2 linked regions of the Homo sapiens genome follow. The protein of the gene in region 1 interacts with the protein of each later gene in a pairwise test. Each region holds a gene or a part of one and is shown on either strand. Other genes may lie near its edges. The genes, in order: CSRP2 and KAT14.

Evidence for each region.
Region 2: the proteins of CSRP2 (region 1) and KAT14 interact in a two-hybrid assay, tested with the Homo sapiens proteins (one study listed by BioGRID).

What each region holds. Positions count from the first base shown.
Region 1 is NC_000012.12:76,871,156-76,886,488, reverse strand, and holds the start of CSRP2 (cysteine and glycine-rich protein 2), read left to right. Parts: upstream 1-7,469; 5' UTR 7,470-7,550; coding exon of another isoform or gene 7,551-7,551; exon of another isoform or gene 7,552-7,819; intron 7,820-7,838; exon of another isoform or gene 7,839-8,130; intron 8,131-8,206; exon of another isoform or gene 8,207-8,321; intron 8,322-15,333.
Region 2 is NC_000020.11:18,130,169-18,146,036, reverse strand, and holds the start of KAT14 (cysteine-rich protein 2-binding protein), read right to left. Parts: upstream 8,175-15,868; 5' UTR 8,082-8,174; coding exon of another isoform or gene 7,986-8,081; intron 7,967-7,985; exon of another isoform or gene 7,483-7,966; intron 3,830-7,482; coding exon of another isoform or gene 3,680-3,829; 5' UTR 3,377-3,679; coding exon 3,118-3,376; exon of another isoform or gene 2,868-3,117; intron 939-2,867; exon of another isoform or gene 805-938; coding exon 686-804; intron 1-685. Other genes in the region: protein PET117 homolog, mitochondrial precursor, read right to left, coding at 3,680-3,829, 7,986-8,081. UniProt on the Homo sapiens protein: Component of the ATAC complex, a complex with histone acetyltransferase activity on histones H3 and H4. May function as a scaffold for the ATAC complex to promote ATAC complex stability. Has also weak histone acetyltransferase activity toward histone H4.

The sequences.
Region 1 (15,333 bases):
CTGGGGAGGTCTCCTCAGATTGGAAAGATTTATGTTCGGTTTGCTGAAAGACTTGCTCCCAAGGAGCTATCAGTCTTTTAGTGTCTTTAAGCAAAGGTACTTTCTTCACTCTTCTAGTATAACAGGAAAGGATCATTGCTAAAAGGCCACGTTCTGCAGTGGAAAGAGTGTGAGGTTTGGATCCAGACTGGATTTGAATCCCAGTTCTGCCACTTACTAGCTATGTGGCCTTGGACAAGTTATTCAATTTCCATGAGTTTCACTTCCCTCACATGTCAAATGGAAAGAAAGATAATCACCTTACAAGGACAAGAAAACAATATTCCTACATGTTTAACATGCAAGGAACATTCAGTCAATAGTCATTGCTATTTGGTTGAAACACATGTTGGCTTGAAGAACAGCCAATGGCGTGTACTTTGACCCTTTCTCATTTATAGTTTTTCAGCTGAATTTGGATGGATGATCACTCCACGATAACCCAATACCCTTCACAGAGGATACAGATCATTTTGCAAGTCTGTGTGTGTGTATGTTTGTACATACACATATATGTACGTGTGTGTACTTATATATGTGTGCACACATACACACACACACCACACACACGGTATTTGAGCTCATACCCAGCCACTAACAGGTCAGTGGAGTTTGGTTCTGCAGTAGCACTCTGAACTCTTACAATTGAAGTGAACACAGGAACAAATAAATCAGCAGCTTGAGTCTTTGTTTGTTTGTTTGTTTGTTTTTTGAGACAGAGTCTCACTCCATTGCCCAGGCTGGAATGCAGCAGCTTAATCTTGGCTCACTGCAACCTCTGCCTTCCAGGTTCAAACAATTCTCATGCATCAGCCTCCTGAGTAGCTGGGACTATGTAGCTGGGACTACGGGCGTGCACCACCACACCTGGCTAATTTTTGTGTTTTTAGTGGAGACAAGGTTTTGCCATGCTGGCCAGGCTGGTCTAGAACTTTTGGCCTCATGTGACCCGCCCGCCTCAGCCTCCCAAAGTAATAGCTTGAGTCTTTAAACGTATAACATCATTTAAGAATTAGGTATGGGAATTAGGTTCCCACAATCTTTTTGAAACAGCAGAAGTAAAAACTGTTTAAAGTAAAATCTAAGCCAGCACTCCTTAAAAACATGTAAATACAGGATTTATACAAGCTTTTTTTTTTTAAAGGCATTAACCTTTTTCCCATAGCTTAACACTGTTCTCATGAGGTGAGAGCTACAGACGTGACAGTTTGTATTTTCTTTTACAAGAAAAGTTTTATTTTATGAATGATTTTTAATCCCGTATGTGAGGATTACACAAAAATCCTGGCAGGCATATGCCATAAATGATTAACTGCCAATCAATTATAGCATTATGTATTGTTTCCAGAATTTCGTTCTTGACATCATTTCCCAGAGAAATACACAGACACACACACGCACACTGTTTTAAGTGGAAATTTTTATGAGGTTTTCTCTGGAGATGCTCAATGATCAAGATATATATACGGAAACGTCATTAACTACATTTAAGATAAAATATACACTTAATTTTTAATTCCTGAATAAATGGATGGATGAGTATACATTCATTCATTCATTCATTCGTTTATTTATTTATTTTGAGACAGAGTCTTGCTCTGTTGCCTAGGCTGGAGTGCAGTGGCAGGATCTCGGCTCAGCACAACCTCTGCCTCTCAGATTCAAGCAATTCTCCTGCCTCAGCCTTTTGAATAGCTGGGACTACAGGTGCGCACCACCAGGCCCGGCTAATTTTTGTATTTTTAATAGAGATGGGGTTTCACCATGTTGGCCAGGCTGCTCTCAAACTCCTGACCTTATGTGATCCACCTGCCTCGGCCTCCCAAAGTGCCAGGATTACAGGCGTGAGCCACTGTGCCCAGCCTACATTTATTTTTATGTAATCTTTAGCAAGGATTTTGGAATCTATGTAAAAGTTAGAAAGTAAACACATATATATATATTTATAAAATGGTATATCTTATCACAAGTGAGATAATAAAAAACATTGTTTAACGCATCCTCTGTTGCTCACATTACAGTTTTTTAGGGGAGAAACTAAGCTTTCTAGTGGTGGTAGCTTTCAAAATTTCTTTCCATTTCTCATCAGAACAGTAGCTAGAGACAGAAGTTAACATTTGTGAGAAATTTCAGAAGTGTCATCCTTCTAAAATATTTCATTCTGTGCATGTATACACAATCATATGTTTACTCAATGTTGTCCAATTACTAAGAGGTCAAGTAGGGTAAGGACTGAAAAATAGCAGTTGGGGGTTTGGCAATTAGGAACTCTCCAATGACCACAGTGAGAGTCTCAGTATCTCTAACGAGGTTGCAGTCAAAGTGTCAGCCAGGGCTGGAGTCATTTCAAAGCTTGACAGTACTGTACTGTAATATCTCCTTCCAAGCTCACTCATATTTTTGTTGGCAGAAGGCTTTAGCTCCTCTGGGACTGTTGGCCACAGGCCACTGTTCTTAACTGCTTGAGTGTCCTCCTGACATGGCAGCTGGCTTTCCCCATAGCAGTGATGAAACACACACACACACACACACACATGTTGGCAGGATGTTGGAGATGGGGGAGGATGGATAAAAGAAAAGGGTGGGGGAAGAATGAGGAAAAAGTTGTCACAAAGCGTTTTTTGACTTAGTCTCAAAATCATGCACTTCATTCTATTTTCTAGAAGCAAGGCACTAAATCTAGCCCGCACCCAAGGGTAAGGGCATGAATTAAATTCTACCTGTTGAAGGGGGGAGTAACAAAGAATCCATGGACATGATTTTAAGCCATCACAATCTGTTGGGAGTCCTAACTGCAAGTAACAGAAAATCCATCTCAAAATGGATTAAACAGCAATGGGGACTCATTGGCTCCCATAATGAAAAAGCCCTGCAGGTAGGTAAACTTGGTGAATACTTGTTCAGAGCTCTGTTTTCTCTGTCCTCTTGTCTGTGTCAAGTCATCCGTGGCCAGGTTCCTAGCAAAAATGACTGCAACCACTCTAAGGCCTCCTCCATGCACATAGCACATTCCAGAATAGGCTAGCTTGGCTCTGACTCCGCACCCCAGCAGAGTTCTGAGATTCACTCTAATTGGATGGGCTTAGGTCACGTGCTTACCATCCCCAAGCCGGGGCCTCAAATGCCTTGACTGGATCCAGTGCTCCACCCTGAAACAGGACCATGAACTCACATGCCTGAAACCACACAGAGAGGAATGGATGCTACAGAGGCAATCACAAATACCTACTACACGACTCAGGGATATTTATGTCAGCTTTTAAAAATACGGGGTGAGCAGAATTTTTGTCATTTGAAAGGAAAGAAAGCAATAGAGCCTGAAATTGAACAGCAAGGGAGTACAATCACGTGCCACATGAAGATTTTCAATCAACAACAGATCACAAATATGAGGGTGGTCCTGTAACACTACAATACTGTGTTTTTGCTGTACCTTTTCTATATTTAGATATGTTTAGATACACAAATACTATTGTGTTGCCATTGCCTGTGGTGTTCTGTACAGTCACATGCTGTACAGGTTTGTAGCCCATGAGCAATAGGCTATACCTTAGGCCATATGGTGTAGGTTTGTGTAAGTATACTCTACAATGTTGGCATAATGGTAAAATTGTCTCATGATGCATTCCTTAGAACCTGTTCCCATCACTAAGTGGCACATGACTGTATAACTAAAAAATGCCAAAGAAATGGATCAAAAGCCTAGGCAGAGTGGACACTGTTGGTAGGGAGTGGGAGAACCATTTGCTCCTCCAAGATCAGGGACAGCAAGTACAAACATAGGAGAAAACATGGAAGCTTCGAGGCAAAGTGGAGGAAGGTTGAGGAAATGTTGGTGACTGGCTGTGAATGTGAATGAAGGAGAAGAAGGTGATGTCACCAGCTGAAAAAGAGGGAGAAAAGTGAGATAAAGGAATTAAGGGGTTAAGATAAGATGGATAGAATATGCTGTCTGGGAAGTTAATGGTGTCTTTCTTACTAGTAGAACTAGAAAAACTCTGCTATAATATGAAAGCAGAAGCAGAGCTCAAAAAGATAGAAAGCTCTGGTTGAAAAGAAGAAATAAATAACATCATAATAGAAGATAATAGCACTGAATGAAAATAATGCCTACTGGAGAAAGAGAGTTAGGAAATGAAGCAAGTATAAGAAAGTAGGAGTTTATAGCAGGTTAAAAAAAGCAACTATGACAAATATCAAGAATAAGATACTCTAATCTACCTTCCAACATTTAAGCATATATCACTTACATTATTCTTTTCTCTGTCAGATAATAAATCACAGAGTATTAGGGTTAAGTATGAGTAATTTTTAATTCCCACAACTGCTGCTAAATCTTAGCTAAGAAATAAGGTAGAAAAACTGCTTCTTTTTGTGTTATTAAATGTGTAGGTTAGCAAAGTGCAAATTGTTTCCCTTTTTTTCATACTAAAATCATTATAATAAGACATTCCTCTTCACTATAGCTTTCTTGCCTTCTGGGAAGAAAGCCTTGCCCTAAAATAAAGAGGCTTTGTGTTTAAATTCACATTCATCTGATTCAGAGTTTTGTTAAGAAAAAGGGGCATGAAATAAAAATAATAAAAATATTTTTAAAATCTACGTTTGAAGCACAAGGTCATGACAAAAGGCAACAACCTTGGTTCAACTTGCCTTAGGACAGTGACCTTGAGAGAGGGCTTTGATTTGAAATTGGTTGATGAATTCCAGAGAATAGAGTTGTTACAAGTATAATACACATTTTGAGTGGGAAAAAGAAATAGCCTGCTGGACACATTTAACCTTTGATTCTGCCTATTACAAGGTTGAAGGGGTCAAACAGACTAGGACCATGTGGACTTAAGGGTTTATCCTTCTCCTTGAGGACACATTTTTCCCACTATCCTTCTGCAGGCGCGCAGATGCTTCCTACTGAAGACTCTTAATTGTTTTGGAAAACACTCCATACCTTCTTAATAGCAAGCCCTCAAGAAGGCAACATGAGTACTTAGCAAAGCACAATTTTATTTCTTTCTTGAGAGGCAAAAAGGACATCAAGATATCTTTGCTTAACATAACAACCATCAATTATTCAGTATTTACCATGTGCCAGGTGCTATGTTTGGCATTTTACATACATCACCCAATTTAATCCTCATAACAACACTACAAGATGTGTAGAATTATCTTTTTACAGATAAAGAAACAGATGCATAGAGGTCAAGTACTTAGCCCAAGCTTACAAAACTGATAGGTGGCAGAGCTGTATGTTGAAATCATGTGTGTTTGATTCCAAAGCCCATACTCTTTCTTTTGCACCACTCTGTCTAAAAACTCTTAAATAATTTCTTCATGTTCATAACTAAAAGAGTCAACAGTTTAAATAGATGTTTAAAGAAAATAAATATTTTTTAAATGTTGATAAATACAAATACAGATTTGTTCAAAATCACACGTTGTATATCATCTGCAGACTCAGTGTGAAGTACACGGAGACAAACACATACAGGGACAGACAGCAGAAACACTTTTAGGTCAGAAACAAGCCCAATTTCTTTTTTGTTTTGTTTTGTTTTTTTGAGACGGAGTCTCCCTCTGTCACTCAGGCTGGAGTGCATTGACGTGATCTCCACTCACTGCAACCTCCACCTCTCAGGTTCAAGTGATTCTCCTGCCTCAGCCTCCAAGTAGCTGGGATTACAGACATGTGCCACCACGCCCGGCCAACAAGCCCAATTTCAAATGATAAGACATGGCTATGGAATTTAGGGACAACATGAGCTTGACGGAAAGCAAACAGCTCAGGTTTGGGAGGCCCCTTCCACAAAGAGGCATTGAGAAGAACTCAGGGTAGGAGAGAAAGGGCAGTGGTTTGCTGCAGTGAGACTCACTGATACAGTTTCATTCAGTAGAAGCACTAGGCAAACTTATACAAGAAAAAATAAACATTGTAAGCAGCTGAGCTAAAGCGAATGTAGAATCTGAGGGACTGAATTTTCCTGTTGGCCCGTGAGTCAAGTCACTTACACTAGCTGATATCACTGAAATAAGGATTGCCCATATTTAGAAAAGCTCACAGCAGGCAAGAATGCTTTCCAGACTCCTGCCACAGTATCAGGAGATGTCAATCACCACTATGTGTTTTTGGACAGTACTTGGTGGACAGAGAACAAGGCAGCTATAATGAGTTTATCCTGGATTGGCCCCAGCATATAAAATAAAACAATAATAATATTATAAGTCGGTTCTGTACGTTGTCATGCGGATATGTGCTCCCTGCCCTCTCCCCAAGAGGGCATTTGGCAATGTCCAGAGACTTTTTGATTGTCACAACGTCGGGGGCAGGTTGCAACTGGCATCTAGTGGGTGGAGGCCTCCTACAATGCACAGGACAGCCCCCTACAATAAAGAATTATCCAGCCCAAGATGTCAATGGTGTGGAGGATGAGAAACTCTGGACCAGAGGAGGCAATAGCATTTATGGCATGAGGGGGTTTTGGTCACTGACTTTTTTGAACTCCCCACTCCGCAAGTATCAGTTCTCCGGGATCATTGCTTCTGGCAGGAGAGGTCATGAGGAGGCCTAGAATATGAACCAGATAGAGATTGCATTGTTTATTTTCCTTTTCATCTAAAACAATAAATCATCCTGTAGCTTAGGCATTAGGTCCCTTCGGATGTCACGGTATCCTTGTGCTTTTCTGACATCAACACATATAAATACAGGGCCTGTGGCGCCCGGGGTTTCTGCCTGGGTTTAGGTTTCTTCCCCCTCAGCATCGCGTGCTGTGCCCTGGTGGAGGGGAAGAGCGAAACACTTTGGGAATGGGGCGTTTTCGTAACGTCATTTATTTAGTCTAGATGAATTTTGCTCTTTAAGAATAAGAAGTTGTGGATTCCCAGAAGCTGGAAATCGGACGAGAGAATATGCGTTAACTAGGGAAGTTAATCACGTTGAGTTTACTGACAAGGACAAGGCAAGGGGGAGGTGGCGGAAAGCCCCGTTTGGCTGACTTTCTACTGCTGGAGCCTCCCGGCCCATGACTGTCTCCGCGAAGAGGGGGATCGGCGCTCGCGGTGGACAGGTCCGACGCAGGGCGGCGGGGGCCACTTTCCAGCGGGACCGTCCCGCCGCCGGGCCTCCCTGGAGGGGAAGGAAGTCCCTCTCCAAGTCCCAGTGGCTTTTGGAACTGCCGGGTCCCTTTGGGAGGGAGCGGTCCCGGGACGTGGGAAGATGCCGGGCGGGCGGGAAGCTGCAGGAAGAGGCGGGCCTCCTGCCTTTTGTCTCCTGGTGGCTAGCCCGGAGCGGGCAGAGGGCAGCCCGCCCGCTACACGCCCCAGCCCGGCAAGCGGCTCCGGGAATCCGGCGGGCGGGGCTGGGAGGAGGGCGGGGCGGACACAGGCCGCGCCCACCGAGCGCTCTTTAAAAGGCACCGGCGCGCGCTTCGCCTGGGATCTCGGACTCCCTGGACCCTCCCTCCAGCCCAGCCTCGCTAGCTCCGCCTGCGGTACGTGCTCCCGCCTCCGACTCAAGTGAGTAGGGGCGGTGGGGCGGTTCCGCGGCGCCGCCAACCCCGGGGCGGGAGTTGCAGGGGGTTTCCACCGCCTCCCGGGGTCGTGCTGTCGCCCGGCCGGCGCGCCCCGGTCTCCTCCGACATCCCCATCCCGGTCCGCATTTGTGCCCCTGCCAGCCTTCTCATCCCTGCGCCCCAGATTTTCTCTCTCTTATCCCCCAAACACACCTGCCCTTGTCCCCGAGGCCGTCCAGGCCATGCCCTGGGATCCCAGGCCCGCGGGGCAGGTAAATAATCTTATATGACCTTTAATTTCTCCATACTGGTTTCTCTGGGAGAGAGGCGGGTTGTGAGTTTCGCGTTTCTGCTAATCCGCCTCTTAGCAGCCGTCGGTCCCCTCGTCCAGCGGCAGGCTCTCTCTGGGGTGGGGGTCGGAGTCTCAGGGCCCCCTCTGCCCGGAGTGTGGTGAGCACCGAGGGCGACCTTACTGGGTTCTGTCCCCTAGGGGTGGAATGGGGCTTCTACATCCCCCCGAGCCCAGGGTACTGCTCCTGCCGCCGTACCGGGCTCCTGGCATCCCCATTGTTTGGTGGTGTCTGCCCACCCAGCACCGAACCCCTCTATGTTGAAGGAACAGCAGGGAATGTCAATCACTTACTCCTAGCTTTTTCCAGAACTTTCTACGATTCAGGTACAAAGAAGAATGCAAGAATGCTTGGTTGTGAAATTATGCGACAGGTCCTGCGAATCACATTCTGGGTTCTCCAGAGCCAGATTCAGGAGCTCCACGTAGGCACCCCCTGGGGGCGGGGGCGGGCTTTCTAAACCGGCGGATCCCTTTCCCCCTTCTAAGCCAGGACATTTGTTAAACGATTTTTACTTAAATGGCTACCCAAAATGTTTAACCTGTTTTATTTGCAGTCTGCAAACCAAGCACATTTTCCCTTTATAAATGCTTTTCGGTACAGAATTTTTTTTGGGGGGTGGGGGGGTGGGGCGGGGGCAGTTAGTAATTTTTTAACCCGGGCAGCGAAAATCGTCGTATTTAGTTCTTGACTTTTCCAATTAACCTGTTTTAAAACTCTCCTCATAAAATGCCAAGAATTCAAATAGGACAGCCACAAAGTTGGCTGTACTTTGACTCACGTTTTTCAAGAAAGAATTGGGTGATAGATTTTGAAAGGGAGAATCTAACATAGTTTCAGAACTGCATGCCAAGCTACAAAGAATGTTGTGAAGTACTAAGTGGTCTCCCCCAGTACTCCTGGGGTCATCGCTCTCGTCCATTGTCACTGATACTTTGTCAGTATTTCTCTGGGTCCTTTCTCCTCTGCATTGTAGTTTTCTTTGCTCTTTTGGTTCTGTGTTACCTTTGAGACCAGACCTGCATCACATGAGTCTTTGAAACTCACAGTGCTTGCTTGGGTACCTTGGACAATTGACTGAAAGAAGGAGCGAATAAGGTTGTGATTATAGGGAACAAAAATATAATTTGACTCACACAATAGGTATTTGTTTGCAGATTTGATCTAAAGTTCGTATCATAAATTTTTAATGCATTTCTCCGAATGTATTTAACAAATATTGATTGATACTGGTATAGGCTAAGTACTGTGCTGAAAGCAGTACTTGCTGGAGGCCTGTCCTGATGAAATTGCAAAATCACTTGGATTTGGGGGAGATTGAATTTTATCCTAAAACAGCAAGAATGTTGGTGTAGAGTAGAGGACAGCAATAAATGAGGAGTTTTAGAAGCCTGAGTCCAGAGGCAACTCTGACACTAAATTGCTATAGTGATCTGGGTCTCTAGGTTTTCTTCTTTGTCAAAAGTGAGGTGAATCAAATGAACCCCAAAAGGGAGCCCCCTATGGGAGAGGAGGCATGGCTGAAAGGGGGAGGAACGAAGCCAGGCAGGACCAAATTCACACCTCAACTCCAGTACCCATTGGTTTGATGCCCTTGGGCAAATTAACTTTACTCTTTGGCCTCAATACTTCATCATGTAAAATGGGTGTAGTGGCACATGCCTTGCAGGGTTGTCATAAGGCCTGTTGATACTTGTACAAAGCCCAGCCCAGCCTGGGAGTAGTTCCTTGTAATTAGACAAAGTTGTGCACTTGGTTGAATATATGTGGGAAAAGGCTATCAGTGAAAGTCTGTTTCAGGAGAGAGCTGGCTCACACCTGAAGAGCGTTTCCTAGACCTTGCCTGGAGGCCAGCTTTCTTCTCTGTGCAGATGTTCACAGGTTTCCTCAAGGCACCTTACCCTGACTGCCAGCATGCCATCCCTTGGGTTCTGTTGGGTGGGGATCCCCAGACACCTCTGGATCTTTGATTACCTAGGTGGGGTTTCTGACTTTTTATATCATGGCACTCCTGTGAGGCCTCCAGACCCCTTCTCAAAATGACGTAACATAAAGTATGTGGTACCAAGTTCCCCAACCCCCAGAATTAAAAGGAATTGTGGCCTTTGGGTTAAGAATCCTGAATTAAGGGAATATTTCTCAGTCTGGATAGTGGAGAAGCTGGGCACAATTTCTTTTTTTTATATTTTTTCCTTTTCAAATTCCTTTTTACCACAGGCACAATTTCTGATTGTTAAAAATTTTATTGTTGTAAGTCACAGAGGAAGAACTAATAGAAGTACATGGTGAATGATCTGGAAAGGATATCAGGTTCCTTGTTTTTTTGTTTACAATCTTATTGTGCCAACAATACTATTGTCTTCGACTAATAAGAACAGACACCATGTAATACATTAGGGCCAAATTACTTCCCAGTTCACTATAGGAAAGAGGGCTTCATGGTGGTTTCACAGTACTTCCAAAAGAAAATAAGCAGAGAGAATTGAATCCTCATCCAGCACACGGCAGTGCAGGAACTACTCAGCTTAAGAAGAACCTATGCCATAGCCATGGAGGTCGGTACTACATCTGTATTGCTACCAGGGGTTTAGTTTAGCAAAACATCAGTGAAATAATTTTGAATTGGAATTTTATTGGTATTCATTTTTAAGTTGAATTGATAATTTTATTTTGGTTTCACAGTTATGAGTCATTTAATAGCTCTATGCCTCAGTTTCCCCACTCATAAAATGAGAATAGTGGTAGTGCTTACTTTAGTTGTTATGAGGATTAAATGAGGTAATATAAACATAAGTAAAGCATATATTAAGCTTTATAGAAGTATTTGTAATTATTACCTGTCATGTGGCAGACACTATTCTAGGTGTTTTGCATATATTGTTTAATCTAAAAACTGCCTTATTGTATAAATAAGCATTGTCCCCATTTTTAAAATGAGAAAACTAGCAGATCAAATGAACAACCTGTGATCATTTGGCAAATAAACAAGAGTCTCAGCATATATATCTAGGTCTGATTCCATGAAAAAATCGTGCAAATATTAAATTGTTTGAATAATTAAATAACTTGTAGTTTTGCACAGATTGTGGATTGCTATGGCAGATGTTGGGGATCAGGGTTACTGAGCTTATAGCATAGTTGCATTTTAATTACAATATGGGATTTGGCAGATAGTGATTCAAATCTGTGTCGAATTTTGCTGCACTCTAAGTTGAAGACACGAGTGGTAGCAGAATACAGAAGTAGTAAGAATGGTGAGGCTGAGGTACACACAGGAGTGTTCACTAGATTAGAAGAGAGTTTTCCTTCAGTGGGGTTAGATTTAGGTTAGCAGAGAGGGGTAATAAAAAGCTTTTTGGTTGAAAGTAGCAGTTTGGGTGTGAGAGTGGTGCACAGAGACCACTTACTGACCGCTAGTTGGATGGAGAGGAAGGTGTGTAATTTGTGTGTGTAATTTGGTAACTCAAGGATTGAGAATTCTCAGGTCATTTGAATAGTCTCAACCCTTAATGTTCTGTGCCTGTCAGATATGGGAGTTTTGAGGAAAGCTTGTGGTTCTGGAATCAAAACATGAGCCTGATTTGTTTCTTTGGAGATCTGTGACCTCAGCAAGTCACCCAACTCATCAGTCCCCATCCTTTTTGGCACCAGGGACCAGTTTTGTGGAAGACAGTTTTTTCATGGATGGTGGGTGGATGGTTTTGGCATGAAATTTTGGGATGAAACTGTTCCATCTCAGATCACCAGGCATTAGATTCTCGTAACGAGTGGGCACCTAGATCCCTCACCTACACAATTCACAATAGCGTTCCCGCTCCTATGAGAATCTAATGCCTCTGCCGATCTGACAGGAAGCAGAGCTCAGGTGGTAATGCTCGCTTACCCTCCACTCACCTCCTGCTGTGCAGCCTGGTTCCTAGCAGGCCACAGACCAGTAGCAAGTAGCCTGAACACAAAACACAGCCATCGGTCTGTGGCCTGGGGGTTGGAACCCTTGACCTAACGGACTGAACTTGGTATATTCAGGCCCCGAGTGCTCCTAAAGGAAAAGGAAGCCCGCCCATTTGTGGAGTACAGGCTCTTTGCCAGGTACTTTACAAACTTTATCTCATTAAATCTTTACAACCGCCTATAAGATAGTTCTCATCCATTTCCAAGTTACCTCTGAGGAAGTTAAGGCTCAGAGGTTAAGGAAATTTGGCCAGGATCACATAGCTGATAACTAGCTTTGACAACCAGCTTGTGTCTATCTGATTCTAAGCTCCGCACTGTTTCTTTTATATCTGGCATGTCTAAAAGGTGGCATGTGTACTGCGGTATTTCCATGGCAAAAATAATTAATCACAGTTCTCTTGATTGTAGAACCTGGACTGAATTTCAGAATCTTTCTCAACGTAGTTCCAGGAATCCACTCTCAGTGGATCTGCAAGATGAAACTGTTTTGTCATGCCTGTGAAAGTAAATGGTGCAGACCTTCAAAAGCCCTTTTTGCATGCCTCTGTGTCATTTATTATATTGCTATTGTTTGTCCACATGTTTTTACCACCTCAGTAGAACTCTGTGCAAAACGGGCCTTTCCTTATGACCCATTTATCCTCAGCCCCCTAACCCAGTACCTGGCTTATGAAATACTGTTGAATTAATACATTTATATGAGAGCTTCATAAACAGTAAAGCATTATGCAGTGCTTATAAGCTGCCTCTACCCTAGAAAAATTACTTGAGATACAGAAATGAAGTTAGCTGGATGGAACGGAGGTAAGGCAGTTGCCTTGATGGGGAGGGTTTGGGGGATAAGGAAGGAATAGATATGTGAGATGGTAGGGCAAGATGAGTATTGATAACAAAGGTTAGAACATTGCTAAATATTGATACTATCATTTGAGTCCCCACTATGCAAGCGTTACCTCATCTATAACTCTATAAAGATGGTACTGTTCTTAACTCTCTAAAAAAGGTACTGTTGCCCTAAGTTTACGGATGAGAGAAATGACACTTCGTGGACTCCAAACGCGTGTTCTTACTTTGCCCTTATGCTGAACTGACTTAAAGGCCAGGTTGAGGATTTGGCTTCAGTAGGAGGAGCCAAATGGAGTACGGAGCTGATCACTAAGACATGAAGAGTTCATCCTTGGTTCAGTGGTATTCACTTCCGTAAGAGAAGTAGACTAAGTGGGTAGTTGGGGTAACAGAAGAAAAAATTTGTAGAACAGGCATCAACTGAAAGCTTAATTTCCAATTAACTACAGCTGTCAAATCCTGGTCTTGCTAAAAAGTCATCGTAACGGGACAGTGCTACTAACTTACATTCTTTAACAAGTGACTCCCCCTGGATGTGGCTCAAGATGAGACTGTATTTTATAATAAATTCTCCTTTAGGGGAAATTGGATTATAGTCAGGTTCTAGTGTAATAACAAGGCCCTACATGTAGTAATAAAATGTCAAAGCTTCTGGAGGCATTTAGAATCTGGGCAAATATAGAATATAGACTAATTCAATCCAAACTTTTAGTTTCAGGGCAGATAACTTAAACTTTAAATGGTAACATATAGATTTGAATTTCATAGATTCAAGTCATTCTGATTCTAAAGTAAGACAGTAAATGCGGCACTAATGGTATGAGAATGGCCCAGGTAGTCAGCTCTTGATTATCATACGGCTCTGATGAGTGCAGGAACACAAGGGTTCTTGATCCTGCCGCCGGTTTAGATAAAACAACACGGACACACGTGGAGTGGTTTTAAGGAGCGGAGAGTTTAATGAGCAAGAAGGAAGGGAGAAGACAGAAGGAAGAAGCTCCCCGGTACAGAGACACAGGGAGGGGGGCTCCAAAGCCCAAAGAGGAGGTCCCCACCTGCAATGGATACCAGCCTGGTATATATGCAAAGACTGGAGGAGGCGATGTCTGATTTACATAGGGCTTAGGGGATTGGTTTGACCAGGCATGTCATTCACGTAGCCCAAGAAAAAGCTGGCCCTCACACCCTAGCTTTTTAGTATGCAAATGCAGGGCGCCATGATGTTCCACACACGTGGGGATATGTGGAGGCTGCCCTGTCACCAGGCACAGGTGGGGCATTTGCATGGCCCACATGGCCTGCATTTGCATATCAAAGGTTGCTGGCCTGGCTCTAAGAGCCAGGGCTTTACAAGAAACTTTTCCAGAGATGCTTTAAAAAATGAAAACTTCCCAAGGACCCCTTTTCCTCTCTATCTGCCTAAAATAATTTCGTAATAACTCCTACCACAGTTATCTAGAGAGTGAGCTAACTGTACCATAAGACGACTCAGACTTAGACTATATCAGTTTTTCCGCATGGGTGAGTCTTATGAATTTTGGTGGCATCTTAGGCTAAGAAGAGGTAGCAAGGAGAAATTGCACATAGGTGTTCAGATATAAATCACGTTGTAACATGTAATACAGTGGATAAATCCTAGTGCTGGAACTCTTTCAGACACTGAAAAACAAGGAACAAGACTGAGAAACAGAATTTGCCCTATTTTATCACATGTAAAGTGGGATTTTATTTTTGCTTTTACCATTCTGTAAATTAATGCCTAGGATTTGGGAAAGGCATGCAGCCCAGATTGCTTAGTGCAAATCCAGTTTGCTGTGATTAATGGCAGCTGTAGTGGAGTAGTACGGCCAAAGGCTTGTAAGAAAAATGAAGACTTGCTTTTTTTTTTTTTTATGCACAGCAATGCCAAGAGTGACAGAAATGGAAGATCATCATACTTCTTCCAGCCAAATTCAGGAAATGTCCATTAGAGGTTCAGCCTAAAAGTGCAAATTTGAACTTCGTTTCTTTTCTTTTTTTTTTTTTTTTGAGTCGGAGTCTTGCAGTTTCACCCAGGCGGGACTGCAGTGGCACTATCTCGGCTCACTGCAAGCTCCACCTCCTGGGTTCACGCCATTCTCCTGCCTCAGCCTCCCGAGTAGCTGGGACTACAGGCACCTGCCACCGCGCCCGGCTAAGTATTTTTAGTAGAGACGGGGTTTCACCGTGTTAGCCAGGATGGTCTTGATCTCCTGACCTCGTGATCTGCCCGCCTTGGCCTCCCAAAGTGCTGGGATTACAGGCGTGAGCCACCGCATCCGGCTTGAACTTTGTTTCTTAGACAGTCACCACCATATGTGGAACTGTTGCTTTACTTTGGAGTGCATTTTAATGTCCCCAAAAAAGAAGGTTTATAGTGACCAATCAGCTCAGTTTTGTCCTTACCTTGTTTGTTGCTCTGCAGCTATGTTCTAGGTGCTGGTTGGTGGGTTTTCCTACTAGAGTACTGATAGCAGGCTGGATAGAGTGAGATGTCCCCTCTGTCTTCAAGCTGACAGCTACTGGATTCCTGCCAAGGCATTTGCTTACCTTATCTTGCCTTCACAATATTTCTGTGGGTAGAGAGAGCTACCTATCCCCATTTTTAGCTTGAGAAA
Region 2 (15,868 bases), on another chromosome or scaffold:
GTTCAAATGCAGAAAAGCTGGGTTATGTTGGTTTTTGCAATCAGTCACCTTCCTTCTTCCAAATCTATTTTCAACATAGCCATCTTTCCACTTTAAAAAAATAGTTTTATTGTTCTTAAAATGGCTGCCAGGAAAATGAGAATTTCATTTTCAATTATAATCAGAGCTTGGTATCACATATAAAAGAAATCATGAGATTCTCAAGCCTCTCAAGCCCAATTCACCAAGTCAGCAGTGAATATATTTTTTTTTTTTTGAAAAGGAGTCACACTTTGTCGCCCAAGCTGGAGTACAGTGGCACGGTGTGGGCTCACTGCAGCCTCCGCCTCCCAGGTTCAAGCGATTCTCCTGCCTCAGTCTCCCAGGTAGTTGGGATTACAGGGGCCCACCACCATAGCCAGCTAATTTTTGTATTTTCAATGGAAATGGGGTTTCACCATGTTGGCCAGGCTGGTCTCGAAGTCCTGACCTCAGGTGATCTGCCCGCCTTGGCCTCCCAGAGTGCTGGGATTACAGCGAGTATTTTTCACTCCCTTCTCCACATATTCGGTATCTAATTTCATTGCGAAATAAAAAGTGCCCCTCCAAACAACTCAAAAGCTCATCCCTAAGTTTCTAGATATTCGTTCCAACAAACTCCTGGGGGAACCACCCTCATGGATTTGGGGAAGGGCTTTTTACTCACTTGCTGCCATGTCAGCTTCAGCCTTTCATACTGCTCCTTGCCATCTGCTGAGCAATCCGAACAAGTAAACCTAAAAAAATTATCACCCTTAAGGTAACTGAGCTGTTCCCTCAGCTGACCTAGGAGAAAAACAAAAAGTCACATCATGGGTTTATCTAGAGCAGCGGTAACCTAAAGGTTTAATCCGTTTATCACCCAGATTTTCCTTTCCCATGTTGTCTTCTTTTCTTCAGCCAACCCACAATTGCAAAATGGGGAAAAGGAAGGGAATTAGAAAGATTTCTATTCTTCTAACACCAAGTATACGCCCACTAAGATCTGTAGGATCCAGTAACTTTTAGGAGAAAGGTACTGGAAAAGCAGGTATTGTTGCTGGATTTCCCAATTGTCACATTCCTGACTCCCAGAGGCAGGTCTCTTCACACATTCTTTCAAAAAATATGAGCTCCCTCTGCATACCAGGCACTGGGCTAGGAACTGGGAATACAAAGTCCAAGACAGATAATGGTGCCTGATCTCACAGGTTTGCACTTCCCTGAGGGCTGCATAGAAAACAGGTGATCACAACAACACAGTGGTTCTCCATGCTCACAGTGCATTGGAATCACCCAAGTTGTTCTTGGTTTTCTAAATATGCTTGATTCTAGCCCAGATAAAATGCATCAATTTCTGAAGCAGAGCCTAGGAGTTACATTTCTTAGTCCCTCAGGTGATGCTGATGCTCTGTGACACATAAGGAATGGAATGTGCTGTGTACCACAGGGCAGTGTGAGGGTAAATAAAAGGAGGCCCAACCTATATTAGGGGGAGGCTTAGGATTAGAAATTGGCCAGGTGAAAAGGGGTCTCTTTGTGTATAGGGAGAATGGAGGCTGTGGAGATGCATATTCCAGAAGAAAAAAACTGTGCAAAGCCCTAAGGATAAGAATTGTTTGTGAAGAATAAGTTCACCCTAACTGCAAAGTTGTGTGGGAATCAAAGAAACTACAGTTAGCAGGGTCCTGACCACAAAGGGTAGCTTAAAATTTGTCCTCAACAGGACAAAGGGAAAGCCACTGAGAATTCAGGCAGAACCTGAAATCAATAACAGAGACCGCTCAGAAGCAAAAACCAGCTAACTAGTAAATTCTGCATTTCCTGTGAAAATGTTACTATTAATTTGTTAACAGTGACTAAATTTGAAGTTGAACCCATTTTAAGAAAAACATTTCCACATGCCAGAAAATGACCCTCTTCACAGTTATATATGTATTTCTCTGACTTGGTTACAAATTATATTACACAAAGGCATTCCTCAAGTACCTATATCTTTACTAGTCTCTTGCCTAATGGGAAAATCCTGTTTCGGTATAAACCATATGATGGCTGGCAAGCCATACTCCTCAGGTGCCAGGAAGCTGGCCATTGAAAATCTCAAGATCAGGGCCGAGCACAGTAGCACATGCCTGTAATCCCAGCACTTTGGGAGGCCGAGGCGGATGGATCACCTGAGGTTGGGAGTTTGAGACCAGCCTGACCAACATGGAGAAGAAACCTCATCTCTACTAAAAATACAAAATTGGCCGGGCATGGTGGCGCATGCCTGTAATCCCAGCTACTCGGGAGGCCGAGGCAGGAGAATCACTTGAACCTGGGAGACGGAGGTTGCAGTGAGCCAAGATCATGCCATTGCACTCCAGCCTGGGCAATAAGAGGAAAACTCCGTCTCAAAAAAAAAAAATAAAATAAAAAAAAAAATTAGCCAGGTGTGCTGGCAAACACTATAATCCCAGCTACTTGGGAGGCTGAGGCAGGAGAATCGCTTGAACCCAGGAGCCGAGATCATGCCATTGCACTCTAGCCTGGGCAACAAAAGCAAAACTCCATCTCAAAAAAAAAAAAGAAAGAAAAGAAAATCTCAAGATTGAGGCAATCAGGGAGTGTGTATGAGGTATCTCTTGCCAGCAGAAAAAAAGGAAAATGGAAAAAAAGACTGGTCCTAGAAAAAGGGCAAAAAACACCTTCAATCTGCTAATTCTAACCTCTTTTCAGTATACAATAGCAGGAGTTCTCCACGTAAGTTAAATATTAACAAAGTAATTTTTATAAACTTGAACATGAATTCAACACTGGGACTGGAATTTGGCCCTAAATCTCTGTGACCTTGTTAGAAAAATATGGCTAATTCTTTAAGTAACACAGGATTTCCAATTTTCTCAATTTTATTGAGTTACCACCAAAAGTGTTAATTTAACAATGTGATAGAGGTTGACAGTACGTTTCATTAGTACAAACATGCCTATGTTTTATATAAATTTATAGCTGATCAACTAGAGAATAAATATAATTATCCTTTTATTTAGGTCTCTTTTACATTCACGTTTCTTTCACAGGTTGGAAAAACAAACCTTCACACAGGAATTGACAAATCAAAGGAATTGAGAAGCTCCTTACTGGCTGGTATCCATTTTTGGCACTTGTCACAGAAGTAGGACAGCTGCTCCTCCATCCAAGACACGTCTCCTTCATCACTGTTGAGGGAATCCCCACTCTGGTCGTGCGATAAGTCCACTGATGCCTGATCCTCGGATTCGACGATCAGGAGCGTCTCTCCCTCCACTTCACCTTCCTCCAGTCCTTCTGAGGTCGATGTTCTCGTGGCTTCGTCATCATGCCGACTGATCAGACTACTCAGGTGGATGCTACTATCCATCCCTTCCTTCTCACAAGCTCGGCAGTGCTTCTCAGTAACAACCCTAAGCACTGGACAGTGACCCTAATGGGGCTTCTACCAGGATCACCCAGACAGACTCTTCCAAAAAGTGTCTGCCCACACTCCTTTATTCAGATATAAGGGACCCTGAAAGCAGTAACTTATATGACCCACTGTCCTTTATTTGATCAAGTTTAAAAGGACAGTGACCAAAAAAAAAGATGAAGATACTACTAAGCTACTCTCCATCAACACACACACACAAACTCGTGTTGTCTGTCCAACAGATATTTCACATTCAAGTCATGATTTTTGAGATCCTTTTGCCAATAACATCTTCTCTCTTTCTGCTTCAAGTTGCTCAGTCAAAATAATCTGTTCTCCCAAAAGACGAATGTTTTCTTTTTTCCGAATTTGCCTCTCAATGTCTCTGATAACTCCGTCACGAAGCCTCTAAAAACGTAAGAAACAGATTTCAGTAACATCCCGAACAGGTGGTCCCCATCCTTGTGCCATTCAAATCCAAATAACAGTGTTACCAAAATATACTTAAAACTTTCAGATTCCAAATACCCAGTTACTATTTTAATTTTCTGTACAAATGTAAAATGTAATAAACGATCAAATAAATTTGGTAGTGTGCTAAATGTTATTACTGAAATGATTTCTTATCATATTTTAAGAAATTCCTGAACATTTAGTACAGAAAATTTAATGGGAAATAACAGAAAAAAAAAACTGGCACTATGTTAAATTTTTTTTTATTTATTTTTTGAGACAAGAGTCTCGCTCTGTCGCCCAGGCTGGAGTGCAGTGGCTGCACTCCGCAGCTCACCGCAACCTCCACCTCCTGGGTTCAAGTGATTCTCCGGCCTCAGCCTCCCGAGTAGCTGAGACTACAGGCGTGCATCACCATGCCCAGCTAATTTTTGTATTTTTAGTAGAGACGGGGTTTCACCACGTCAGCCAAGCTGGTCTCGAACTCCTGATCTCAAGTAATCCACCTGCCTCAGCCTCCCAAAGTGCCGGATTACAGGCGTGAGCCACTGCACCCGGCCAATGTTAAATTTTTAAAGTTTAATTGATATGTAATGCTTTAAAAACTTGGCGAGTTACTACAGTAACACTCTAAACTACTCTTCTGTTAGCACTTATCCTAGCTGAACAATAAACACCAACAGAAAAAATGCAGATTACTAAAATCTCAACTTGGCTTCTAGCATGTAAAGTTAACAATGTAAAAATCATGCAGAATTATTAATTAATTATATAACAGAGAAAGAAGAAAAAGAAGGATGCTACTACCAGCGGAAAAAATAAATGCTCATCAATGGTAGTTACCTTAGTAAGCACTAAAAAACCACAGCACTTCAGAACGTGGACCTGGCACCCAAGAAGAGACTTTTAAAAACATCAGTCATTACTAATAACTAACATTTTATAGTTTATTGCTCACAAAATACTCTAAAGGTTTTAGGCCAGGCGTGGTGGCTCACTCCTGTAATCCCAGCACTCCTGTAATCTTAGGCCAAGGCAGGCAGACTGCTTGAGCTCAGAAGTTCTAGACCAGCCTGGGCAACATGGCAAAATCCCATCTCTAGCAAAAATAAAAATAAAAAAAAAAAAAAAAAAAAAAATTGCAGGGAGTGGTGGTGTGTGCCTGTGTTCCCAGCTACTCCGGAGGCTGAGGTGATAGGATCACCTCAGCCTGGGAGGCACAGGCTGCAGTGAGCTAAGATTGTGCCACTTCACTCCCACCTGGGTGACAGAACAAGCCCCATCTCAAAATAAATAAATAGGGTTTTTTTTGTTTTGTTTTATTGGTTTTTTTTTTTTTTTTTTGAGAAGGAGTCTCGTTCTGTCACCCAGGCTGGAGATCTTGGCTCCATGGCACGATCTTAGCTCACTGCAATCTCCACCTTCTGAGTTAAAGCGATTCTTGTGCCTCAGCCTCCCCAGTAGCTGAGATTACAGGCGTGCGCCACCAGGCCTGGCTAATTTTTTTGTATTTTTAGTAGAGACGGGGTTTCACCACGTTGGCCAGGCTGGTCTCGAACTCCTGACCTCAAATGATCTGCCTGCCTCAGCCTCCCAAAGTGCTGGGATTACAGGCATGAGCTACCGTGCCTGGCCAATAAATGGTTTTTAATAGTGGCTATATAGAGTAGAATTAATGGGAGTGGGGCCCAGGGCCTGCGTATGTTTGTGGGGTTTTTTCCAAATTATTTTACCTATTTTTAAAAACTCACCTAATATAATACCTACTTGCTGGACCTCCTCCAGGCCTACAGCTTCATTATGAGGGATTTGAAGGAGTCCCGGGATTGATATAACTCAACTGAAACACAACTGTCTTGAACCATGCACCCTTGGCAAGATCACCACTGAGACAAAAACGGAGGTGCTTATTCCACTCCCCCAACTGCAGGTCTTCCTGTCCTGTGCTTCTTACACCATGACACACCGATACCCACCCTCCCAAGCCCACACCATTCACCAGAATCATTCCTTCCACACCTGCCTCCCAGATCCTACCCTTCCTTCTCAGAGATGTCACGTGTGCTTATGATCTGGCTCTCCATCCCATCATTTGCTATCTTCCTCTAGGTTTCAAGGTCTATGCTGATTGCCTCACACATCCTTCCTGTGACCCTCACTGAACTACCTTTCTAACAACTTTCCTTACTAATCACTAAAGACCTCTTTATTCTTCCAACCCTAACACCTAGAACTCTGGCTCCTCATGTAGCACTGCTTAATTTTTGCTAGGTTACTGTGAGGATTACAGATGATATACATAAAGTGCTTAATACACTGCCTGGTATGTGGTAGACGGTCAGGAATCAATATTCATTATTTAATTTCTTGCTTCCTTGAACCTTCCGACACATCCACTGTGCTAATCATTTGTCCTAGTCTTTCCCACTGCTATTAATACAATGTAAGCCCCTAATGAAGAACCGGACATAAAAGGAAAAAAAATAAACACACACACACACACACACACACACACACACACACACACACGTTATTTTGGTTCTTCAGCTCTAACTTCCAAATAACCACTTTTCCACTCTGTAACACAATGGTGCTTAGTCCTGTGTTAAAATTCTCTGGGTTACTTTTAAAACATTGTTGAACCAGGTCCCCATCCCCAGGAGATTCTGGTTTAAATGGTCTGGGGTGGGGACCAAGCCTTAGTCACATTGTAAAAACTTTCCGGGAACATTTGATGTTCAGTTAGGGTCCAAAGCCAAGCTCTAATCCATCCCTACCCAAACCCTTCAAACATCACTTCACTGACGTCAGATCATCTGTCATACTAAATTTTACTCCATCTCAAGTTTTCCCAGGATCAACATCTTTTACTTTTCCTTGTAAGAGGCGGAAGTCTTCTGCCTCTATTCCAAAAGCCAGCCCCTTAGGAGCACATTTTAATCCCAAATCTCTGATCTCTCCTGTGCCCTTTCATTGTTAAGTCATCTCAACCCCTCGTCAAAATTCTTGTACCATCACATGCTTCCTCTCTTCTAATTTCCACAGTCTGTGAACACCAAGAACAAAGACCTCATCCACTTCATCTCTGTATATCAAGCACATAGCACAGTCCAAAGGTCTGGGTAGGCAAATCAAGAAAAGACTGTTTACTCTTGATTCATCCAGTCCATTATTTTCACCCTTGGTGAACTAGGTTCAACCCCAATCACTGCCAAGTTGTTTTCTGAAAATTCACCAATGACCCTGTTCTCAGCAAGGTCGTGAATCACTGATAGACTCTGGAAGAGTGGAGTTTCCTTATCTTTGTATTCCCAAGGTGCTTAGTGAGGTAGCTTCCACACAGTAATCACCCATTAAAGGTCTGTCAACTTGAATAAGAAAGAAAATATGAACTGAGAGGACAGAATAGTCACTGCTGATCAGCAGGTCACGGATATTTCCTGAAATAAAAGTACCAAAAAAAAAAATCTGGAGACTGTTATCTCTATCGTTCCCAGATTCTAGTTTCCATAGCAAACTGTTCATTTAAACGAGAAGTGCAAACATCTCACCAAATTATCTTGGTCAAAGGCATGGAGAGTGAGTACGGGGAAGGGGGGCTCCCTTACCATGGGATAAAATCAATAGCACGTAAAACACATTAGGCTTTAACCCCAACCTTGGGCCAGGAGGGAGGCTGGTAGCTTGCAGAATGCACCCCAAGAAACTCCTTCCCCACCTTCTATTTTCTAGCGGCCCAAGTGAGATGTGGAAAGGTCCGCACCCTGCGGGCCGGCTGTGACTTGAAAACAGAGCCACTGGGCACCCCAAAAGCTTGCGTGCCGTGCCTGTGCGGAGCAAGGCCCCTTCAGCGCGGAGCTCCAAAGGCGCTAAGCCGGGCAGCCGGGTCGTCCTGAATCTGCGGGCTGCACACGCCCGCCGGGAGCTGCAGCGCCCGGAGCCCAGCAGAGCGGCCGCCGGCCGCAGCCGCAAACGCGTGGGGTGCAGGGCCGCGCCACCGCGGGGGAAAGACACGAAGAGGAGCTGAGGAACCGAGCGGGCAGAGACCACGAGAGGCCCCAGGTCGACGCCGCGCGCGCGGGCCCGGAAGAGACGGTCACGTGACACCGACCTGCTGGTCCCACTGCTGCTTCACATGTACGCCGGCCACTGTGGCCGCCGTCAGCAGCACCGAGAGGCCCAGCACCACCTTCGAGCTCCTAGACATCCCCACGCTGGCGGCCGCGGCCTCTCTCTCCCGCCCGCCCGAGGCGCAGAGGCCGCCGCAGAGTGCGCACCGCCGCCTGTACTGCCCAGGCTCGACCCCTCGAGCGCAGAGCCCCAGCCGTCGCGTGCGCCGCTCGCCGCTGCCAGGCGTGAGCAATCGAGAGCCGAGCATAGAGCGGCGCCCAGGCTCTACGAACTCTTGGCTTCACTAGGGGCCTCCTGCACACCCCGCAGGCGACAGCGTTAGACCACCCCCGATTCAAATTCTAGGAGTCCCGGCCCAAACTGGCCCCGGCACCTTACCAGGGTGGAGGGTGGGGGTTCCATGCCCCTCAGTCAGTTCAGTACCAACCTCACCCCGGGCGGGGTCTGGATACCGTGCTGACCCCTCTCCCACAGACGTCCCTTCTGAGCCCCTGACTGATCCAGAAGCTTCGCCCAATACCGGCTTCGCCTAAACGCAGCCCCCTCATTGCTCCTTTGGCGGGGCAGGCGCCACCAGGAGACCGCCTCGTTAGGCAGCTTCAGAGGCGCGGGGTTCCCATCCGTGGAGTTTTTGCCTGAGGACCCATTATTAAACGCTGTAGTCGCGGTCACCTGGTTTCACCTTGACGCTGTGGGGCGACTGGTCAGGCTCGGATTATTATTATTATTATTATTATAATTTTGATACAGAGTCTCTGTCTATCGCCCAGGCTGGAGTGCAGTGGCGCGATCTCGGCTCACTGCAACCTTACCGGATTCAAGCGATTCTCCTGCCTCAGCCTCCCGAGAGGATTACAGGCGTGAGCCACCGCGCCTGGCCCCATGTAATCTTTGTGATCACTTTTACACCCAAGTTTCCGCGCCAGTAATACAAGGGAAATAAATGATATAAAGAAGTCTTGCGTTGGGAATAGTTAAGCAATTGTGCAAGACGCATTTTCACTTCTTCCTCGGGTAAAAAAGGCAAGGCCTCCCAGAAACTTTTAAGTATCTGATAGAGCAACCAGTGAAAACGTGTTCATCATTCAATCATTCTTTCCCACTAGAATTCACAGAGAACGAGCTTCTTCCGGTGGACACGGCTATAGGCAGTATTGATTAAGCCTCACCAGGGAGTTTTACAACATTCATTACTGTTCATAGTGCTTTGCTATTCCAGTCTCTTATGTGAGCGTAAATGGCATAAGGGGACTATTGCTCTTAAAGGTATCTTTAAAGATACCTTTTCCAAATGTCATTTTGTCCACAGCATTTTTTGCAGCCTAGAGAGAATGTACCACTGAATTGGAAAATGGAGTTCTTGCTGTAATGAACTTTGAGAAGAAATTCAGTTCAGGGTGTATTTGCATATTTCTCTTTAAAAATTATATTAGACTTCTTTTTATTCGTGGTATATCCTAGATATTTTCCCCTGTAAATCAGTGAGCCTTCAACAGAGCTGTATGTCCTTAGAGTGTACATCAGGGAATTAGATCAATCGCCTTTCATTTTATTGTGACTAATTTTTCAACTTGTTTTCTTGAAATGTACTCTTTTCTTTATTTTCAGGATACTAGAAGCAAAAAAAAAAGTATTCTACTTTTAAGAAATCATTTATTATTAACTGTGTCAAATAAAAAAGTGGGTTGGGGGACTGAGGGAGGTCTTGCAAAAAAAAAAAAGTATGTTTATCTGTTTAAATATTTATAAGCCTAAGCAGTATATTTTCCGTGATTATTGTCGCATAAATTACTGATTTGTGAGAGTGACTGCATATCATCAAACTGAGAAGCAACTATTTTTTTCTTTTTCTTTTCTTTTCTTCTTTTTAATTGAGACAGGGTCTCACTCCGTCGCCCAGGCTGGAGTGCTGTGGGGTGATCTCACTGCAACCTTTGCCTCCCAGATTCAAGCGATTCTTGTATCTCAGCCTCTGGAGTAGTTGGGGTTACAGGCCTGAGCCACCAGGCTGCACTAATTTTTGTATTTTTAGTAGAGATGGGGTTTCACCATGTTGGCTAGGCTGATCTAGAACTCTAGTACTGGGTGCTGGTACTGGGTGTTTGTGAAAATTGGTCCAGTGGCACACCAAGGCTGTGTGGTCACACATACATGCATGATACACTTCTATACAAAATCTTACATAACTATACGAACAGAAAAAAAATGGCTCTTTTTTGTTTCTTTTATTGTCTTTATTTCCTTTTGATTTTTTATTGTGTGTTTTTTTCTTTTTTTTCCCATTGGTTCATAGCCGATGGCTTTACATTTTATCATCACTTCTTGTATCAAATAGCTTTTTGGCTGGGAACGGTGGTTCATGCCTGTATTCCAGGCACTTTGGGAGGCCAAGGCAGGTGGATCACTTGAGGTCAGGAGTTCGAGAACAGCCTGGCCAATATGGTGAAACCCCGTCTCTACTGAAAATACAAAAATTCGCCAAATGTGGCAGCGCATGCCTGTAATCCCAGCTACTTGGGAGGCTGAGGCAGGAGAATTGCTTGAACCCGAGAGGCAGAGGTTGCAGTGAGCCACTGCACTCCAGCCTCGGTGACAGAGTGAGACTTCAACTCAAAAAAAAAAAAAAAAAAGTTTTTTCTCCATGGTAACTATCAAAAATTAAAGAGATGATCATTTAAAAAGATTTTGATCAGCCAGGCGTGGTGGCTCACACCTTTAATCCTAGCACTTTGGGAGGCCAAGGAGGGTGGATCACTTGAGGTCAGGGATTCGAGACCAGCCTGGCCAACATGATGAAACCCCGTCTCTACTAAAAATACAAAAATTAGCCAGGTGTGGTGGTGGGTGCCTGTAATCCCAGCTACTTGGGAGACTGAGGCAAGAGAATCACTTGAGCCCGGGAGGTGGAGGTTGCAGTGAGCCGAGATCAAACCACTGCACTCCAGCCTGGGTGACAGAGTGAGACTCCATCTCAAAAAAAAAAAAAAAAAAAAAAAATCTTGATCAAGAACTATGTGCAGGAGCAATGATCAGGAACTATTTTTAACACAAAACTTGATATTTAAAAGAGACTCCAAGAAGAATGTTATCAGGAAATTTTACCCAAAGTTGATATTTAAATCTACCCCAAGATTTGCTTTTATTTTTCTTCTCATAATTATATGTCATTTATTTTTTTGTTTTTCTTTTTCTTTTTTATAAGAGTACCATATAAAGGAAATGTAAATAATTATTATCCATGAAGCTCCTTTTAGAATTATCCAAGCTCACGCAAGTTGATCCCAGTGAGTTGTACAGATATCCTTATTTTTTATGTTTACCAAGGTGGGACGAAGCTTAGGAAGCATGGCTGATTTAATACAATTTGCTTGTAAGGCCAGAACATCTGAACCTTGTGTATCTGGCTATATTCTAGTGTCTCGGCATCCTAAGATCACATCAGTTCCTGCCCCTCTCAGCTTTGGATTGACTTAGGTGTGCCCAGAATGGCCACTGCTTTCCTGGAGAGGACAGTGGGTGCCTTGCCCTGCCATTGGCTGGCCTTCAGAGTGAACTTACCTCCAAAGACAAAAATAGGAAGCTGACCACCTTAAAAACCGCTCAGTGGCTCCCCATGCCTACAGGATAAAGTCCCATACTCTTTAGAACAGCATACTACCCTGTCCTTCCCTTCAGAATCCTCTAAGCAAGAGGCAGCATCAAAAAAGAAGTACAGTTGGAAGTCAGGGCTTGGAGAAGAATCAACAAATGAAAACTAAGGGGAGGGAATGCAGTCATTTTCCTGTGTTTGAACAACATGGTCACACAATCTTTGTTCCACCTTCACTCACACAAGGGTGGGGACTTGAAAAAAATGCCTTCCTCACTGAGTGTGTAATTTGGCTTATGTTATTTGGGCTTGAATCATGGCCAGGTCCTGGCAGCTATCCTGGGAGAGCTGGGTTTCGGGTCACTTCTGTCTTAAAGAATAGTAAATCACTAGTACCCTAGCAGGAGGTATCAGTAGGAGGCACGGGTTTAAACTGGGCTTGATGGTGGGCATGAATGCAATAGGTCAAGGCAGAGGCTTCAGGCAATGATCAGAAGCTTGTCATCATTGGGGCTGAGAGAGAAGGAGGAGGTGGGAAGGAGGAGGTTTGTTTGGGAAGAAGGTGGAGGGTGTCAGCTGAACTGGCACCAGTGACTGATAAATTTATCAGTCTCAGCACTAAATGATTACAGAAACATCACACCACATGGCACCGCATAAAGCACCATTATGACTATTTTAAATGCAAGCAAGAAGGCTTGCCTTGTGTATGGCCCTGTAGTGGGCTCTATAGGCAGACAAGGCCACGAAATCCCACCTTCTTCAGGCTGAGGCTCTGAAGTCAGCACATAAGGAAAAAGTCAAAAACAGTTAAAACTACCCTTGAAAACATTTTAGGAAGGTGACATGTTGAAGAAAATAGATATTTTCTCAGGAACTCCAAAACAGCCAGTTTTTCTTCTGGTACTGGAATTAATCACCATGAATTCAATGCAGTATCTATATAAGTAATCTGAAATTCTGCACAGGTTTGTCTCTTCTCTCCCATTTAGTAACTGATTCAATCATTTGTTTCTATCAGTGTGGACTGGTGGGTATTTATTTTATACTTTGGGTTATAATCCAATATTACTTTATTTTGTTGCTCAGATGGCTCCCGCTTTGGCCGTTGGGAGATCTTTCAGCTCCTCTGCTTCTCTGACGGACCCTCATCAATGTGTGTTTTTCTTGTTTAGCACTTGTCTATTTTCTGACACTGCACAATATTCTGAGCTAATCTTGTATATTTCCTGCCCAAGTCTCAGAATCTGCCATTTCTCCAAGAATCCAAGGTTCTTTTTATTGTAGAATAATATTGGAATCCAAGATATAGGTCCTGGCATGCTTATTGCTACTGGGGCTTTGTTTCTTTTGGGCCCTCTCAGCTGACAAAGCACATAAATATATGTGTGTATACTTATCTGTGTATGTTACATATCTGCAAATATTTCTATATGTAATCACCTGAATCTATATTGACTAAAATGTGAGATATTGCTGATGTCTGCAACTCTAGTCCATTACCAGATGGATTATTCTAACCTCCTTTTTTTATTGGTAAATTCCTACTCCATCAGTGAGAATTCAGGCTCCCATTTTCCACCATCCACTTGCGCAATTGTTTGATTCCAGTGTACATGTATAGCAGTTTCAGAATTGTTTACCTCATAATTATATGTCATTTTTTTTTTGTGGGAAACAACTTTACCTACTAGAGTACCATGCTTTTTTGCAGTTCCTATTGCTTTTGGCTTTATAGACCTCATTTACTCCAAAGTTACCAAATCAGCACCTTTGCCCTCCACCCCTTCAGTGATATCGTTTCATATGTTTGCAATACAGTTAGATGCTCTTGTCATGGTTTGCACTTTTTCCTAGGATCTTCCTGAGAGTATTTTTTTAACTCCTTTCTTTCTTTCCTTTCTTTCCTTTCCTTCCTTCTTTTCTTTTCTTTCTTTTTTGAGACAGGATCTCACTCATCCAGGCTGGAGTGCAGTGGCACGATCTTGGCTCACTGCAACTTCTGCCTCCTGGATTCAAGTGATTATCCCACCTCAACCTCCCGAGTAGCTGGAAGTGCAGGTGCATGCCACCAAGCCCGGCTAATTTTTGTATTTTTAGCAGATAGAGGGTTTCACCATGTTGGCCAGGCTGGTCTTGAACTCCTGACCTCAAGTGATCCACCTGCCTCAGCCTCCCAAAGTGCATGGATTACATGTGCGAACCACCGTGCCCGGCCTTTTTCACTCCTTTCCATAAACATGATGGAATCAGCATATATCCTCTCTTCATACCGCCCAACTTAGGGATTAGATTGTTTTTAAGCTTTACCTTTATGCCTTTAAATATATTTAGACCTCTGTGCTTGATTTACCATCTTTAAATAATATATTCTGGTCACCAGCTCTAAACATTCAGGAAACCAGCTGTATTAGTTTGTTTTGACATTGCTATAAAGAACTACCTGAGCCTGGGTAGTTTATAAAGAAAAGAGGTTTAACTGACTTACAGTTCCACAGGCTGTACAGGAAGCATGCTTGGGGAGGCCTCAGGAAACTTACAATCATGGCAGGAGGTGAAGGAGAAGCAAGTACATCTTCACGTGGCTGGCAGCAGAGGGAGAGAGAGAGAGAGAAAGGGGAGGTGTTACACACTTTCAAACAACCAGATCTTGTGAGAACTCTACTATGAGGCAGCACTTGGAGGATGGTGCTAAACCATTAGAAACCACCCCCATGATCAAATTACCCCTCATGAGGCTCCACCTCCAACAATGGGGACTACAATTCAACATGATATTTGGGTGGGGACACAGAGCCAAACTATATCACCAGCATACTTGACCTATTTCCTATCTTCTGCTCTTTCTCATTCAACTTTTGTTGGTTATATCACTCCTTCACTGTCAGAGTTTATAACATATATATTTTGCTCTTTTTTTTTTTTTCTGAGACATGGTCTCACTCTGTCACCCAGGCTGGAGTGCAGTGGCTCAATCTCAACTTACTGCAACCTCCATCTCCCAGATTCAAGTGATTCTCCTGCCTCAGCCTCCCAAGTAGCTGGGATTACAGGCTTGTCACCATGCCCAGCTAATTTTTGTATTTTTAGTAGAGATGGGCTTTCTCCATTTTGGCCAGGCTGGTCTCGAACTCCTGACCTCATGTGATCCACCTGCCTCAGCCTCCCAAAGTGCTGGGATTACAGGCGTGAGCCACCACGCCTGGCCTACATTTTGTTCTTTAACCATAATTGCCATGCTTGTTTTCATCTTAGTTGCATCTTTAAATGGATTTGATGGTCATCACCAGTCCTTTCTGTGTCTTTTCTCCATCTACCCTCTATTAGAATCTTTTAAAAAGTGTTGTAGAAACTATATTTCCTGAATTCTTGCACATTAAAAAAACATGTTTGTGTTGTCTTTGTCCCTGAAGTACAGTTCAGCTGAGTAAAAATTTCTTGGGTCACACTTTCTTTGCATGAAGACTATATAGACTTTACCCATCTGTCCTCAAATATCAAATATAGCTGTGGCAACTTGGAGGCCGGTCTAATTTTCTCCTTTTAGTTAATTACTTTGCATAGTTGCTTAAAGCATACTTTCTTTATCTTTGAAGTCCAATAACTTTACAAGAATATATTTTTGAGTCTATTTTCCTTGGACACGAGGTACCCATTCAATTTTTAGATTCATACTTTTAACTCTGGAAAATTTTTTAAATTACATCTGTAAATACATTTTCTGTTCTATTCAAATTTCTCCTTCAGGGACATGAATTATGTGCCTATTGGATCTCCTGTGCCTGCCTGTCACATTTATTACTTTCTGTCTAATCCTTTTTAAACTCTGGTCATTTTAATTTCATTTGCCTTCCTATCTCTTTTCTAATCGATGGGTCTCTCTTACTTCAATGGTATCTAGTCTACTCTGGAAAAGTACACTTGGAAACAATTTTTTAAATGCTTTTTTGAAATTCTACTTATTTACCCAATGCTTTTAACTCATAGTTCATCTTTTTAAAGTTGTGTAAAATACACATAGCATAAAATTTACTAGGTAAACCACGTTTAAGCGTACAACTCAGGGGCATTAAGTACACCTGCACTGTTGTGCAACCAGCATCACTATTCATCTCCATAACTTTTTCATCTATCCAAACAGAAACTGTGTCCATTAAAACGTAACTCCCTATTTCCCCTCCCTCTAGCCCCTGGTAAGCGCTATTCTACTTTCTGCCTCTGTGAATTTGCCTATGTTAGATGCCTCGTATAAGTGGAATTATGCAATATTTGTC